Linked DNA regions of Homo sapiens: region 2 is linked to region 1. The links come from fine-mapping of genetic effects on gene expression. A gene starts in region 1. The other region holds a variant in brackets. All regions are shown on one strand. Distances are from middle to middle.

Region 1 (2,801 bases):
GAAGCATTAAAAAAAAATGATCAAAATCCTTTAACATAACTAAATAGAGAGCAAAATTATCTCTACTCTCCCGAATTTACGGCCCTGCCTTTGACAAAAGGCATTTTTTTTCCCTTCAAAGACTCCGTTCCTTTGAGAACTACCACCTGCCCATGGTGGTTTTTTTTTCCCCCCTTAAGAAGGCATCTGCACTGCAGATTTCTGCATAAGGGGAGCTTGCCAGGCAGCTCTTACCAGCAGGCAGACGCGTATACAATGCAAACTAAAGGAGGTCTGCAGCTTCGTTCTTAGTCTTTCACAGAGATGGGAGAAGGGGACTCAACCAGCCCTTGCTTTGTCTGAATGTTCTCCCCCTCCCCCTTTCTGCAATAAACACCCCCCTTTGTTATACTTCGATCAATAGTAGCCCACAGAAAACATGAAATCAAAACATGTTGATAGCTTAGCATGACTCTATTTTCTAGAATATAAGCGACTGATTGCGTGTCCCCACCCCCACGCAGCGCCAGGGAAGAGCAGGCTGTTGCAGATGCAGCCACGGATCCATCTTGGACCATTAGCAGCTCCCTCCCAAATCTTCCCTGAGCTATTCTCATCACGCCTCCTTCTACCTCGGAGCCTCAGAAAAATCCGGCATTCATGGAGTCTAGCCGAAAACAGTAAAAACAAAACAAACAAACAAAAAAAACAGGCTACAATGCTTCCATTAAACTTCCTCATCCTTCCCATGGGCAGCCAAAAATATTTTGGAGGACTATCATGAATGCTTGATTATGTCAACACCTGTCTGCAAACCTGCAATGCAACCCTTTCACCACCATCCCCTCAAAAATAGTAACAAATTGTTTCTCCCACCACCCACCTGCCCGTATCCTTTCAATCTCTCTAATCCTCACTAAATCACCCAGGTTCACCATATGCATCGAGCAACTCTCCATTTTATCCCACGAGCTGGTATTTTTCCCCACCTGCCCAGTCTTGGCGTTAACGCCCACTGGACTATCTCCCCGCCCCCAACCTGTTTTCCTCACACCCCGCTATTTCCTCACCGCCTGCACAACCTTACGTTCCCCTTCCCCTTTGCCCATTTTCCAAACGCTCGTCCCCGGGGGGCTGAAGCCGTCAGTAGTCGAGGGTAATTCGTCCTCCTCCCGCCTCGCCTCCTAATCCCCCCAGCCCCCAGGCTCCCGCTCGCCCTCTTTCCCAGGGCGGGGGCTCCCCGCGCGCCTTACCCGCACAGGAGGAGCTGCAGCTCTTCGTCCCCAGGGCGGGGCAGGCTCCTGGGCTCCCGCCGCCGCCGGGCGCGGACGGCTCGGCTCCGAAGGACGACGAGGAGATGGAATGGGACTGAGTGGCCGCCGACGGCTCCGCCATGGCTACGCGAGCGAGGGTGGGAGAAGGGTGAAAAGAGATACGGGGCGGGAGAGAGGGAGGGGAAATAGAATAATCCGGCAACTGGCTCGCTCAAGTCCCTTTACTCCGCCTGCTCCGAGGACAGACTCCGACAGACTGACTGACTCAGCCGAGCGCAGCTAGAGGGCGGGAGCGCGAGCGCGCATGCGCACAAAGGGCCCCAAGCGGGTGCCAAAGCGCGCAGCGGCGCAGGGCGCAGGCGCAAGAACCGCTCCTCTGCGCTCTTGCAGGGAAGGAGGGGCAAAGCCGGCCTCACGCGGCGCCTCGCGCGCCGAGGGTTGGGGAGCGTCCCTTGGGGACCAGACGCAAAAGGCGTATCCAAGCCCCAATCCCCGCCCACGACTGCGGCTAATCGTGGAGCTGCGGGATAGTATTCCCTCCTGCCTCTTTATGTGAATGTTTTAGGGTCGGCAGATTATGTATTTTAACGGTAGAAATGTCTTTGGGCTTCCATTATGGAAACTCTCTTTCCCGTACATTCCAGAGCCTATATCTTTTGTTTGATGCATTCCCACCTGTGACTCCAATAAAAACTGAAAACCAGAGTGTAGAGTAGGCCCACTCTGCAAGGTGCTTTGTGAATCTCACTGGCTGTGTCGTAATATCTCCTCACCGAGAGGCAGAGATGGCACGGCCCCCCATTTGGTAGGTGGAGAAAGATGCTATACAGAATGAAAAACGATTACTCATTCCAATCACATTGCAATGCAGTCGCAGAACCTGCTTCGTATTCTTATCTCGTTACTGTTGCCAGAGAAGGGTCCACCTTGGGTCTTAAGGTTCTCTTTTCCTCCGAATAGACTGTCAGATAGAGACGACATATTTTAGAGAGGGAAAAAAAATGCTGAGCTGATGAAGAAGAGCCAGGAGATAAGAAAATGTTGGCTGTGATTATGGGGGATGATAAAATTAGATATTAAAAATTCAGAATAAGGCCGCAGTCAGTGGCAGAGGCCCGTAGTCTCTGCTACGGCAGAGAAGGGAGGATCACTTGAGCCCAGGAGTTGGAGTCCAGCCTGGGCCACACAGCGAGAACCTTCCTGCCTTAAAAAAAAAAAAAAAAGTAAAAAAAATCAGAATAAGGCACAAAATACACATAATTGAATTTTATTCATAGACTAAAAGAGGTCCTTAGCAGAACATGTATTTAAAACCAGATTTCTAGCCTATATTGGATTTTGTTCATTTTTTGCTTTTCCTGGGCTGGATTGCCAAATTCGAAGCCTTCTCCCTACATCTGGTCAAAATATTGGAAAGGTGCATAGTCTTTGTTAAAGGAGGACTGTTGGCTGGGCGCGGTGGCTCACACCTGTAATCCCAGCACTTTGGGAGGCCGAGGCAGGTGGATCATCTGATGTCAGGAGTTCAAGAACAGCCTGGCCAATGTG
Region 2 (2,801 bases), 130 kb before region 1:
TTCCCTCCCTTCCTCTGGCTTGTTGCTGAAGACCATCTCCCCTCACTAGAGCACCCCATTCCCCTTATGCATCACCTCCAACACAGCACACATCACCACCTGGCACTTGTTTTTGGGATGTTCACTGCCTGTCTCCTTACCACACCATAGCATCCATGACCACGGCCAGGTGCGGTGGCTCACGCCTGAATCCTAGCACTTTGGGAGGCCGAGGTGGGCGGATCACCTGAGGTTGAGAGTTCAAGACCAACCCCACCAACATGGGGAAACCCTATCTCTATTAAAAATACAAAATTAGCTGGGCGTGGTGGCACATGCCTATAATCCCAGTTACTCGGGAGGTTGAGGCAGAAGAATCACTTGAACCCGGGAGGCGAAGGTTGCAGTGAGCCGAGATTGTGCCATTGCACTACAGCTTGGGCAAAAAGAGCAAAACTCCGTCTCAAAAAAAAAAAAAAAATCCATGACCATACAGATTTCTGATGTTTTGCATCTGTATCTCCAGCATCTGTATCTGTATCTCCTCGCATGCAGTGGCATTTAGTAATGTGTGATGAGGGACTGACTCGGTCTCCAACCTGCCATCACTGGAGTTTCCCAGGACTCAGTCCTTAGACACTTCTCTACTTCCTTCTCTTCCCACTGTCTGCCTGCTGGCAATTTCTGTTTACGCCACTAGCTAGATACTTCCAGGAAATCTAGGCCCATGTATCTGACTGCTTAGTTGACCTCTCCACCTGAATATGTCATAAATAGGCATCTCAAACGTAATCATATTCAAACTTTCACTCCCAGTCTCCCAAGAGCACCGCAGCCTTCCCCATCTCGGAAAATGGGAAGGCTCTTCCTCCAGTTGCTCAGGCCAAAAACCTTGAATTCAATCTTTCTTCCTCTCTCCACCGAAATCTTTCCAGAAGCTTGTGCTGCCGGACCTTTGCACTTGCTATTCGGCCTGAAATGCTCTTCCTGCAGATATCTGCAAGGTTGGCATCCTCACTTCCTTCGGGTCTGTGCTCAAAATTCACCTTATTAGAAAACCCTTTCTGAACCACTCGATATATTCAATTAAATACCCATTCCTCCTCTTTCTCCTTTTCCTGCTTTAGTGATCTCTGAACCATTTATTGCCACCCAACATACTATACATGAACCTATTTCTCTGTCTTTAGCCATTGGTATATATATGTTCTTCAAGAGCAGGGTTTCGGTTGCTCTGTTTACT[A/GCTA]CTACTTCCCAGCCTAAAAACACTAGCCTAAACAGCCTAAAGTAGACGTCCAGTGAATATTGGTTGAATGAATTCACCTGTCTATTCCTGCCCTAACAGTGGGGATAAGGCCACCCTTGCAGGGTTGAGAGGATTAACTGAGACAGCCTCTGACAATGCCCAATGAACACTCAACAAATATTAGCAGAAGTAGGAAAACAACCTATCTTTTGGACTAAATGCTCCGAGAAGGGAGGTGACCTTTATTTCCCTCATGAATTTTATAACCCTTCCAGTTCCAAAAAGGATGACAGGCAGTGCAGGCAGACATCATTCTGTTCGGCTGAAGTTCAATGAATGGCATTGCTGCTCTCAACCTCTTTTGGGTACTATCCCGCCTAAGAAAAGCGGGGTGGGAGAATGGAAATATATTTGCATTTTCATGCATATTAAGTCTCCCACAAAGATGGCTCTTTGTTTTCTTACGGTTTGCAAGCTCCTGAGGACTAGAAATCGGTGAAGGGGGAGGGGAGAGCGAGTGTTCTGAGATTGTTCCTCCCATCCCCTCCCAAAGCTAATCTCGTTCTAGCACTGCACTGCTTTTCCAAACTAGCTGTTGTATGCAGTCCCATTCATCCCTTCTCTCCAGAACTTGACACCTGTGGCTCCTGCAAGTGGAAGGCCCGGGAATGGGAATGAAGCGGGGTGGTGGGCAGGGAAGCGTTATGCTCGGAGAGCCCTTAAAATTCTCCTGGAGGTCGGCAGCGGCGCCCGCCTGTAGCCTCCGGCCTAGAGGCTTCGCCGCCCCTCGGACTAGAACACAGCCCGGCCGTTGTGCTTGCCTCCCCTTCCCAGGCTGTGAGACGGCGGCCGCAACCACCCAGCGCCTCTGGGGATCCGGCCTCTGGTGCTGGGCCCGGGAGAGGGGGCGCTTGGGCACCGGAAGATCCGGAGCGTGCGGGGCGTGGATCGAAGTCTCCAGACCCTGGGCGGGGGAAAGGGGAAGGGAGGGGGAAATCGAGGAGGCCTGAGCTTCTAAACCATGGTGGGGGAGGTGCAAGAGCGCGCCCTGGACCCAGATCCGAGAGGGAAACCTGGGCCCCAAGGCTGAAGGGGGTGAGAAGGTGCCCGGGTCCCGGACCCCGACTGGGGAGGGACGGCCCCAGCCCCGGCCCCGCACCGTGACGCGGAAGTGGAATCCCCTCCATCCTCACCTCTGAGCATCGGCTCGGGCCGCGGAATTACGGCCACCACCATGGCCTCCTCCTCGTCCTCCCCTTCCTCGCATTTCAGCGTCACCTCGAAGCAGTCGAGTGCGGCGCCCTCGGCCTTTAGGGCCATGGTGCGGCCGTGGGCGATAGCAGTGGCCGGAGGACTGGCGCGCAGGCTTCGGCGCGCAGCCGGCAACCGCCTCCCGCCTCCTGGCCGGAATAGCGCCGGGCCCGCCGCCCGCCCCGCGCAGCCCCCTCCCCGCCGCCCGCCCGCCGCTCGCCGGCCGGGCCTGCGACCGGCGCGTCCGGGCCTCCCCGAGACCTCGGCGCGTCGGGAGCCCGGGCGGGGAGGGCTCAATCCGGGGCCCCTGCCCCCCGCCGCTCCCTTT

Direction of the effects. Alleles are on the strand shown, and positions count from the first base shown. SD is a standard deviation of normalised expression in the study named.
As copies of A replace GCTA in region 2, the expression in monocytes of the gene that starts at base 1,511 in region 1 goes down (large effect, 0.84 SD a copy in BLUEPRINT).

What was found.
Region 2: its variant is fine-mapped to the expression of RTN3 in monocytes (BLUEPRINT, PIP 0.93).

The regions. Positions count from the first base shown.
Region 1 is chr11:63,680,210-63,683,010 of GRCh38, reverse strand. It overlaps RTN3 (reticulon 3), which reads right to left and starts at 1,511. Exons shown (of 9, transcript NM_001265589.2): 1 at 1,233-1,511. The coding sequence starts at 1,374. RefSeq lists a silencer at 1,219-1,338.
Region 2 is chr11:63,813,428-63,816,228 of GRCh38, reverse strand. SPINDOC (spindlin interactor and repressor of chromatin binding) reads right to left here and starts at 2,773. Exons shown (of 6, transcript NM_138471.3): 1 at 2,416-2,773. The coding sequence starts at 2,542. RefSeq lists a silencer at 2,668-2,801. The variant A/GCTA (reference allele first, on the strand shown) is at 1,223.